Linked DNA regions of Homo sapiens: region 1 is linked to region 2. The links come from fine-mapping of genetic effects on gene expression. Tissue or cell type: whole blood. Region 2 holds a variant in brackets; the other region holds the start of a gene. All regions are shown on one strand. Distances are from middle to middle.

Evidence for each region. PIP is the estimated chance that this variant, and not a neighbour inherited with it, causes the effect.
Region 1: LINC02610 starts here. The variant in region 2 is fine-mapped to the expression of LINC02610 in whole blood (TOPMed, PIP above 0.99).

What each region holds. Positions count from the first base shown.
Region 1 is chr2:238,229,088-238,234,231 of GRCh38, reverse strand. It overlaps LINC02610 (long intergenic non-protein coding RNA 2610), which reads left to right and starts at 2,555. Exons shown (of 3, transcript NR_026926.1): 1 at 2,555-2,898. It also overlaps the pseudogene TARDBPP3.
Region 2 is chr2:238,319,117-238,324,260 of GRCh38, reverse strand. It overlaps TRAF3IP1 (TRAF3 interacting protein 1), which reads right to left and starts at 3,743. Exons shown (of 17, transcript NM_015650.4): 1 at 3,476-3,743. The coding sequence starts at 3,598. RefSeq lists silencers at 3,250-3,479, 3,610-4,089. The variant G/A (reference allele first, on the strand shown) is at 2,831.

The DNA of each region.
Region 1 (5,144 bases), 90 kb after region 2:
AGAACTTCTACCCTTCTTTGAGACACCAGAGTTCACTGCTGAACTCTGCTTCCAAGTCCTCCTGCAAAGCACACCACAAGCTCAGTCCATGTTCTCAGCCCATCAGCTTCAGTTCACATTGCCACACTTACATATCAGTAACAGAAGAGAACACACACCATACAGCATTCACAGCAGTTGACAAAGGGGTAGGGGGAGTACAAGTATCATTTCACTTAACACATTCAAATAAAGTGGGTTATCTAAGAACAAAAACTCAAAGTCTTCCAACAGATGTGGATGTCCTTTGAATGCAAAAAACATTCGTACATTATTTGCTATCATTGCTGTCTGCACACTGTCACCAAAGCCGCAGGATTGAGAAACACATCTCGCCAAGTTAAAAAATATCCGTTATGCACCACCAAGTCTCTGCACGTGCTCTCTCCTTTTCTCACTCATACTAGCCTTTCATGCCTCAGCACCACCGTCAATCCCACACAAGGTTTCAAAAGTTCAAACAGCCTTCTAGTTCCATATCACAGCCTTGCGTTCACAGCGTTGATACGACTCTATGAAATAAAGAGTAGCAGATAAAAATGGGACACCCACCGTCAAAGACGCGGCCTGTGATGCGTGATGACGAATTCTTGAATGAGAAGGCATGTAGACAGAAGTGTTCCTATGGCAGAATATTTACAGCACTACTTTCAACCAAGTGCTTCTTCCATAAACATTTGAAATGAGATGAACTGCAGAGATTAAATGAAGGCTTCATATTGTACTTTTGTGTTTGAGGGGAGACAAGTGTTAAAAAACAAAACAAAAGAACCAAACTGTGACACCATGATCTTCTAAAAGGAGATTTTCTTAAGGAAAAAAATCCATATGGTGGGGTTCAAATTAAAACAAGGAATAAAGAATGTAGTTCTAATTCATGGCTTCCATTTTGAACATGCAAAGAACTCACTTGACAAGTCCAGGGATAAAATATTACAGGAGAAACCTTCTGATATCAATTGTAGTGTGTTGGTTTACCAATCAGGCAAACAGCAGTTCACTTTCAACCACTCAATATTTCAACCTTTCATGTAACAAAACTTATAAAATTCCTTTAGCTGTTCCTTTTTCTAAAGAAAAATGTCAAAAATACTACTGAATATACTCCACACTGAAGAAACCAATTTTGAAAATTCTTAGTACATATGTATTTTACAATATACTTACCATGAGTTTAGAAAAATTTGAATTCCAACCATTCTATACCAACCAACCACAACCCCACTGTCTACGTTCCCAGCCAGAAGACTTAGAATCCATGCTTGAGCCAAAGCCGCCATTAAAACCACTGCCCGACCCTGCATTGGATGCTGATCCCCAACCAATTGTTGCACCAAAATTAGAACCACTACAAGAGTTATTTCCAGAACCGAAGGCCTGGTTTGGCTCCCTCTGCATGTTGCCTTGGCTTTGGTTATCATCCGATGGGCCTGGCTGCTTCGCTGGCTGGCTAACACACCCATCGTACACCAACTGCTCTGCAGCACTGCCTGGGGGGCAGCCATCATGGCTGGATTAATGCTGAACGCACCAAAGTTTATCCCACCACCCATATTACTACCTTGATTGTTTCCCAAACCAGCTCCACCCCCTCTACTCTTACCAAATCCACCCTGATTCCCAAAGCCACCTGGATTACCACCAAATCTTCCACTTCTTGCTGTCTATTGCTATTGCGCTTGGGTTCGGCATTGGATATGTGAACGCTGATTCCTTTCATCGAGTCCTCTCCACAAAGAGACCGCGCAATCTGATCATCTGCAAATGGAACAAAGGCAAAGGCCCTGAACGGCTTGGGGACGAAGACATCCATCACATCCCCATACTGAGAGAAGAACTCCCACAGCTCATCCTCAGTCATGTCCTCCGTACGGCGCCCCACAAACACTTTTCTGCTTCTCAAAGGCTCATCTTGGCTTTGCCGCACCATAAGAACGTCTCCAAAGGTACTACAGTACTCTTTCAGGTCCTGTTCAGTTGTTTTCCATGGGAGACCCAACACTATTAAATCGGACTGGTCTTTTCACTTTCACTGCTGATGAAGCTTCTGTCTCACCCATTTTTCTTTTGTTATCTTTCGGATAGTTGACAACATACACCGGATTTCTCCAGCCAGCATCGGGGGCATGCAGAATTCCTTCTACCAGCCGGACACCTCTCATACATTGAGACACCGGATTCCTGCAGCGAAGCCCACACGCCCCTGGAAACTGGGCTGTAACCGTGGACAGCAGCACCGTCCCATCGTCTTCCGATGGTATTTCAATGGGCTCATCGTTCTCATCTTCGGTTACCCGAATATATTCAGACATCTTTTACTTTTCCACTAGGCCGCTGCTGGGAAGCCCGACAGGGACACCGAGGCAGCGACGGACCCAAGCGCCAGTGTTTTTTTGTTTGTTTGTTTTTTGTTTTTTTAAAGAGGCCACCACAAGTTGAGGCGGGACTACAACTCCCAGAGGCCGCCGCGGCCCGGAGGCCACGCCCCTTGGCGGCGAGCTCTGAGCCCTTTGCCGCATTTGACACTCGACATCCTCGTGCTTCTTAAAGCACTTGCCCAACGGTGAGCAACGGCCTCCAACGGTGCCCGAGGGACTCGCGCTGCCCGTTAAGCAGCTTTGCGGTGGCGGAGGCTGGGCTGCCGTCTCTCCGACATCCCGGGACGGAGGAAGAGATGAAGGCTCTGCAGCCCCCGCCGCCCGATTTACGCTTGAGAAAGCGAAGGCGAGAGAGGTCGTCCAGCCCCTGGGGGCCCAGCCCTAGAGAGCGGGGCGCGGGCTGCGGGGCCCGGCGGCCTGGACGGCGGAGCGTTGAAAGCTCCCCCAGGGATAGGAAGTGCAGCCGAAATCAACGATTGAGGTCAGTGAAGGAGCGGACGCTTGAGGCCTTGGAGGGGAAGCAGGTTTCTCCAGGAGGGAACCCGGGCCTCCGCTTTGCTCAGCGCTCCCCTCGCGAATGTGTTGAGCACCTGTTATGTGCTGGGGGTACAGAGGTGAGACTCACAAGGCCCCTGCATTGTCTTTAAGATCAGCAAGACCCCGCAGAGAACCCAAATCCAACGCGCACTGCCCAGAGGCAGACACTGGCATTCCTTGATAGACGGTAGCCAGGGAAGCCCAGGTCTTACTAGATTATTATCAGTACTTGGATTTGAATGTATCTGAGAGGAGGAGGGTTAAGGTTTAAGCTGTGGCTCAGAAGCCCCTCAGCTCTTCGTGGAATCTCCCAGGCTTTTCACTCTTGCATCCTCATGGAAAAATACTGCCCTCCCTGGGAAACCATGCTTTCTGTGCACACCTGCTCTGTTCCCATGTCGCTGTACTACCTATTGACCTGTCAATGGATGATGACACTTGGGGTACTATCCTCTCTCCTCCAGATCTTGCCCCACCTTAACCTTGAAAGAATATTAAATGCGCCCTTAGACGTCAGGAACCATCCCTCAAACCTTGCCATTCCTCTCTGTTGAACCTGCTCCAAATCTTAAGTGCCAACCTCCATCTTATCCACTTTATCCTGGGGAACTTGTCCTCACACCCCGTTGAGGTTTCTTACTTATTGTCCTACTGTTTTCTTCACACTCCAGTTTCTTAAAAACAGTCTTCATTCTCATTTTCTTCATTTCCTCATCACCTGTTTGTCCCTAACAAAATTTCAGTATGGCTACATTTCCTGCCATTCTACTATAGAAAACTTCTGCCAGAGTCTCCAATGAACTCCTGATTGCCGAGTAGACTCTTCAGTTTTCTCACCCGAACTTTGCGGCATTTGATACTCAACATCCTCATGCTTCTTAAAACATTGTTCTTGCCAGAGCACGGTGGCTCACACCTGTAATCCCGGCACTTTGGGAGGCTGAGTTAGGCAGATCGCTTGAGCCCAGGAGTTCAAGACCAGCCTGGGCAACATAGCAAGACTCCATCTCTACCAAAAATGCAAAAAATTAGCCAGACATGGTGGCCCGCACCTGTAGTCCCAGCCACTCGAGAGGCTGAGGTGGGAGTATCACTGGAGCCCGGGAAGTCAAGGCTGCGGTGAATTGAGATCACGCCAGTGTGCTCTGGCCTGGACAATGGGAGTGAGACCTTATCTCAAAAAATTGTTCTCTGTCTAGTCTTCTTGCTCTTCTTGTTCCACCATTCCTTCTCAGGTTCTGGCAGTGGCTCTTCACAACTGGATATTAAATGTTGTCTTTTTTTTTTTTTTTTTTGAGACAGGTTCTCACTCTGTCTCAGGCTGGAGGCTGGAGTGCAGTGGTACGATCATGGCTCACTGCAACCTCGACCTCCCAGACTCAAGTGATCCTCCCACCTCAGCCTCCTAAGTAGCTGGGACTATAGGCGCACATCACCATGCCTGGCTGATTTTTGTATTTTTTTTGTAGAGAGAGATGTTTGTAGTGTTGCCCAGGCTGGTCCAGCAATCCACCTGCCTCACTCCCAAAGTGCTGGGGTTATAAGCATGAGCCACCGTGCCCGGCGAATATTGTCTTCTTAAATATTGTGCCCCACATTTCTTTGCTAGGCCCTCTTCTCTAGCTTCTAGGCTGTAATCTGTATGATCTCCATGGCTTCACCTGCTGTGCTACCAGCTGCAAAATCTATTTCCAGCCCAGCCCTCTCTGGAGCTCTCATAGAGTTTATCCAAATGCCCCTGGCTGTCGCCTCTCAGGAATCCCACAGGTTCTGCAACAAGTTCAAATGTGAACTCAGCTTTCCAACAAAACCTGCTCCTCCCTTCATGTTCTGGATCCTTCAGAGCAACAAGGGCATCAATCCTTCAGGCTGGAAACCAGACGGTCCATGGAGACACCTCCCTGGAGCCCTGCCTGGGCAACCTTGACCTCCCAGGTTCCAGGGGACACTGGAGCCCTGCAGGTAGCGTCCAGGAACTGGCAATCCTGCCACTTCAACAGGTTGAACGAACAAGAGGATGAGTCTTAGACGTCCCTTTCCCCCTGTCCGGCTCCTGCATTCGTAGTTCAGGTTCTTGGCTGTCACCTGGAGAATGGCAGTGGTCATTAAGAAAACCCCCACCTTGAAGGTTACGCCCTGAGCTTCAGTCTTTTCAAAAGCCCAACACTGCAGATTCTCAAAGAATAGTAG
Region 2 (5,144 bases):
CCCCGTCTCTACTAAAAATACAAAAATTAGCCAGGCATGGTGGTGGGCGTCTGTAATCCCAGCTACTCAGGAGGCTGAGGCAACAGAATTGTTTGAACCCGGGAGGTGGAGGTTGGAGTGAGTCAGAATCATGCCACAGGACTCCAGCCTGGGCAACGCAGTGAGACTCTGCCTCAAAAAAAAAGAAAGAAAAGAAAAGGAATTTCTCAACCTAGTTTGCTAAGACTAGAAGTTCTGCAAGGGTCTTTCTCCTCACCACGTGTCACTACTCACTTCTTAAGATGGTGGCAGGCTCCACACCTCACTGCTTTGGTTCTCTCCCTAATCATCCCTTCCCTCAGGTAACCTGTACCTCCTAATTAGCCCTAAAACCAGCTTTTAGGGCAATTATTTTTCCTGTTCCTCTCAACCACCACACCCAGCCAGGGTCCTGGGTTGTCTCAGACTGCAGTTTTTTGAAATGTGGTAGGTTACTGTAAAATCAATACAATTTGTAGCAACAAGCATTTTGAATAGCTGGGACCCTTACCAGCAGGCTGCATGGTATGTGGTAAGGACAGGTATGCTCATAGCCACATATCCTAGGTCAGCTAATAAAGCATATTTATTACGGGAAGACATGTTTTAAAAACAAGACAGTCCCACCCTAATGAGAGCCTCCTCTGGAATCAAGCCACAACTCCTTAATTTGCATCAAGTTAGGTATTAATGAATCTAGGAGTTTTCATTCCACACCACACTATGTAAGAGCTATGCTACTGTTTTTCTTGAGATGACAGGTAGAATATTAAGAGCATCCTGCATTTAACATTCCTGGAACATTTTCATTTTGTCCCTGTTGAGGTTTTCCCAGGATGCTGGCAGTTAAAATTGTGAGCAATAGGCTGGGTACAGTAGCTCACACCTGTAATCTCGGCACTTTGGGAGGCCGAGGCAGGCGGATCACCTGAGGTCAGGAGTTCGAGATCAGGCCGGACAACATGGCGAAACCCCATCTCTACTAAAAATAGAAAAATTAGCTGGACATGGTGGCATGTGCCTGCAGTCCCAGCTACTCAGAAGGCTGAAACAGGAGAATTGCTTGAACCTGGGAGGCGTAAGTTGCAGTGAGTGGAGACTGTGTCACTGCACTCCAGCCTGGGCGACAGAGCAAGAATCCCTCTAAAAAAAAAAAAAAAATTGTGAACAATAACTGTAAGTGACAAGAGACATTAACGTCACAGTATCCACACTTAGCTTAATGAAACGGGGTGGTTAGTGTAGCTATAGCTAAAATACTAATATAGCAATGTGTGTATAATATTCAGTACAGTAAAGCATTTTCATAAGAGGCTCTCCACCTATTATCTGAAAATCCTTTCCAATATGTCAGTCATTCTAACAACTTTATCAAGTAGGTCATAATTTATTTATCTTTACACAGGGAGAGAAATCAACTTTGGCATTAGATGAGGAAGTCTATGGGAGAAGAGCAGACCAGTCGTTCCTAATTGGGAACATGCAACTCGTTCCACACACCCTATCTACCTGGCCAAGAAGGCAATTCTTTTTTTTTTTTTTTTTTTTTTTTTTTGAGACAGGGTCTTACTCTGTCACCCAGGCTAGAGTGCAGTGTTACAATCACAGCTCACTGCATCCTCAACCTTCCCGGCTCAAGCAATCTTCCCTACTCAGCCTCCTGAGTAGCTGGGATTACAGGTGCACCACCACACTCAGCTAATTTTTGTATTTTCAGTAGAGATGGAGTTTTAACCATGTTGGCCAGGCTGGTCTTGAACATCTGGGCTCAAGTGATCTGCCCGCCTTGGCCTCCCAGAGTGCTGGGATTACAGGCGTGAGCCACAGCACCCAGCCCATGTTCCTCCTCCTCTCCCATTAGGATTCCTCTGACCAACTATGCGGTAGTGACTGGACAGCCACCGTGAGCTGAGCGCCATCACTGCCCCACAAGGATAAGGCACACTCCCTGCACCTCCCTCCTGGGGCTCTGCATTTCAGTGGGACAGACAGGCCTGGGAGAATAAAGGTTTTGGCAGCCACAGCTAGAGTGGGCTGGGCTCACACTGGCTCTTGTTCCCTCTGGGTCAGAGGACGGGTACCCGCCTACTTCACGGGACGGTGGTGATGCGGCACATTGTCCCCCTCCCACCGGGCTATCCACACAGCAGGTCCTCTCCCCACACACTGTCCAGGACAGGCTGTAAGTGCTGCACCAGCTGGGAGGACATGACCAGGGCTGGCGAGGCCCTGGGATGTGGGTGGATTCGAGAGCATTTTTAGGCACTGTTTTAACACAGAGGCACACGCTCCAGGAGACCACACGTTATAAGCTAAGGTAGGAGGGCAGAACCAGTAAAGCAAAGTCTGTGCAAGAATAAGGCACCCAACCTGTTGAAAAGAGTGAGAAACAGAGCTTGAGGACCATCACCAGGTGAGGTCATGAGGCCCTGGAAGTCTGCAAGTCCAACCTGAATCCTAAATCCCAAAACACACCTCTGAGTTCCCACGTGCCCTTGGGTCCACCATGGAAATGGGTGCTGCGCCCGCTGCAGTGACGCTCCTGAGAGTTACCAGGGAGTTACCACGAGCCTTGACAGGTCCCACTCAACAGGGGATGTTTGTTGTGCAATTTCTATGTACCTTACCCAGTGCAGATCACCAGAGCCATGCTAATAAGCAAGCCAGGGTCTCCGTCACGGAGGAGCACACCATCCGCAAGTGGAAAAAGCTACAGAGACCACCAATCTCAACGTAGGGCAGGCTGTGCAGCTCTGTTACAGTCTTTCCTGCCAAGTCCCCCTACAGCCGCCTCCACTAAATCCACCCGCAG[G/A]CATTTATTAAGCACCCAAAATGTGGTATGGAGGGAAACTTTGGGGCAGAAGGGTTGTATAAAAAATATTATTTCCATTCTCCCAGGATTTAGGGAGTGCCTTCCACGTGCTACATACTTCAGGGCAAGCGAGAGGGGTTCTGCAAGGTTAGACGAGGCAGGAGTCACAGAAGCAGCTCTGCCAGCAATAATGGAAGATGCACTCTAAGGAAATACAAGGGCAGGCAGGGAAGAAGTAAGAATGCTCCTGAGGGCCCGGAGCCTCCTTGTAAGCGGCGGCCCGGAGCCGGGGGAGGGGCAGGACCTCCTCACGGAGGGCGCCGCGGAATTGGGCCTACAGGCCGGGCTCCCAGGCAGGGGCCGCACAGAACTCTCGCCCCGACCCCGGAACTGACCCCGGCCCCCGACCCGCACCCTGTGCCCGGCCCACACCCGGCCCTGAACAGGTCCCCGACCTGCACCCCGAGCCCGGCCCACACCCGGTTCACACCCGGCCCGGGCCCCGACTCCGGCCCAGCCCCGGCCCCCGACCCGCACCTGAGCCCGAGCCCGGCTCGCACCCGGCGCCACCCGGCCCGGGCCCTGACCTCGGCGCCCACCGGAATCCCGACCCGCACCTGGCCGGGCCCGGTCCCCGGCGCCCACCTCCGTGATGATGTCGTGCAGGTAGCGGAACGGGGGCTTGCTCAGCAGCTTCTCGGTCAGCGGCGGCCTCCGAATCACTTTCCCCAGCGCCTCCTGCGTCCGCCTCACCACCGCCGCGTTCATGACGGCGTCCGCCGCCCGCTGGCCGCCCGCGCCCCTCAGCCGGCCTGGCCGAGCCTAAGCCCGGGTCCCTGGCCGCCGCCGGCCCCGCCGCCGCCGCCGCCCGGTCCTGCCAGGACGCGCCGCTCCGGTTTCCATCCCACAGTGCACCGGAGCCCACCACAGCGCCTGCGCGGCCGCCGCAGGGCGTTCGGTCACTAGGGCTGCGCGGCCTTAGCAACGGACGCGCCGCGGCGCCCCGCCCCCTGCCCGCCTTCCAGCGCCCGCGCAGGCAGGAGTGGGGGTTCCGCGGGAGGGATTTGCGGGAGTGCGGCTGTGCCAGAGCAGGCGGGGCGCGGCGGGGCGGGGAAAGGGGATCTGGGATCGGGCGCCTGGCCCCTCCTCTGCCGAGCGACGGCCTCGGGAAGCCGGTGTTCGCTCGCGTTAGAGGCGACTGCCTGAGGACTGATTAAGAACAAGGTAACCTCCAAGATCTGTGCCGCCTGTTTCCCAAATCTCAAGGGCTTTCGAAGGCACTGGTTCATCGGAGGGGACGGCACTAAGTTATCCCAAAACACACGGAATAGAAAATACGCTGTCCTGGCTGGTAATTAATAAGGCTTCTTGGGCAAGTCACCTGTTTTCTCTGAGACTTCACTTCTGCTCCCACAAAGCAGGACTAGTGTGCCCGCTGCCTAACCCACCTCCCAAGAAGGTAAATGGTGACTAAATGCTGTGTCGGTGCTCTGAAACCGGGACAAAGCCATGCCTAGTTGTCCTACTAGGTGTCCGTGATTCTTTACCACCTGTCCTCTGTCCATCATGCACAGGCCTACCGCAGAAATCCTTCCGGCGATTTGAGAGCTCTGGGGTCTGTAGTTCTTCTAATGAGAACACCATTATAACCTTTTTTTTTTTTTGAGACGAAGTCTGACTCTGTCGCCCAGGCTGGAGTGCAGTGGCACGATCTTGGCTCACTGCAACCTCCACCTCCCAGGTTCAAGTGATTCTCCTGCCTCAGCCTCATGAGTAGCTGCGACTTCAGGCTCCCGACACCACACCAGCCTCGCTTTTGCATTATTAGTAGAGACGGGGTTTCACCATGTTGGCCAGGCAGGTCTGGAACTCCTGACTTCAGGCAATCCGTCCGCATCGGCCTCCCAAAGTGCTGGTATTACAGGTGTGCGCGACCGCCCCCATTATAACTTTTAAATTGACCTTCATTTTTACCATTTTCAGGCCTCCTCATTTTTTGTGGAGATCTAAATCGCCATCTGGTGTCATACCCCTCCTGTCTGAAGAACTTCCTTTAATATTTCTTCTAGCACAGTTCAGTTGGTAATGGAAAAGTTATACAGACAACCAATTTCAATGCCAGTCAGGCTGTATGGTTTATCAACAAATACTAAATTGCATTTTTATAGTTTTCCTTCCATGTCCCCCTATAACCACCTCCAGTAAATTCAGCCACAAATATTTATTAAGCATAGAAGTATAGAATTCTAGAGTTGGGAGGTCAGGAGTTCGAGACCAGCCTGACCAACATGGTGAAACCCCGTCTCTACTTAAA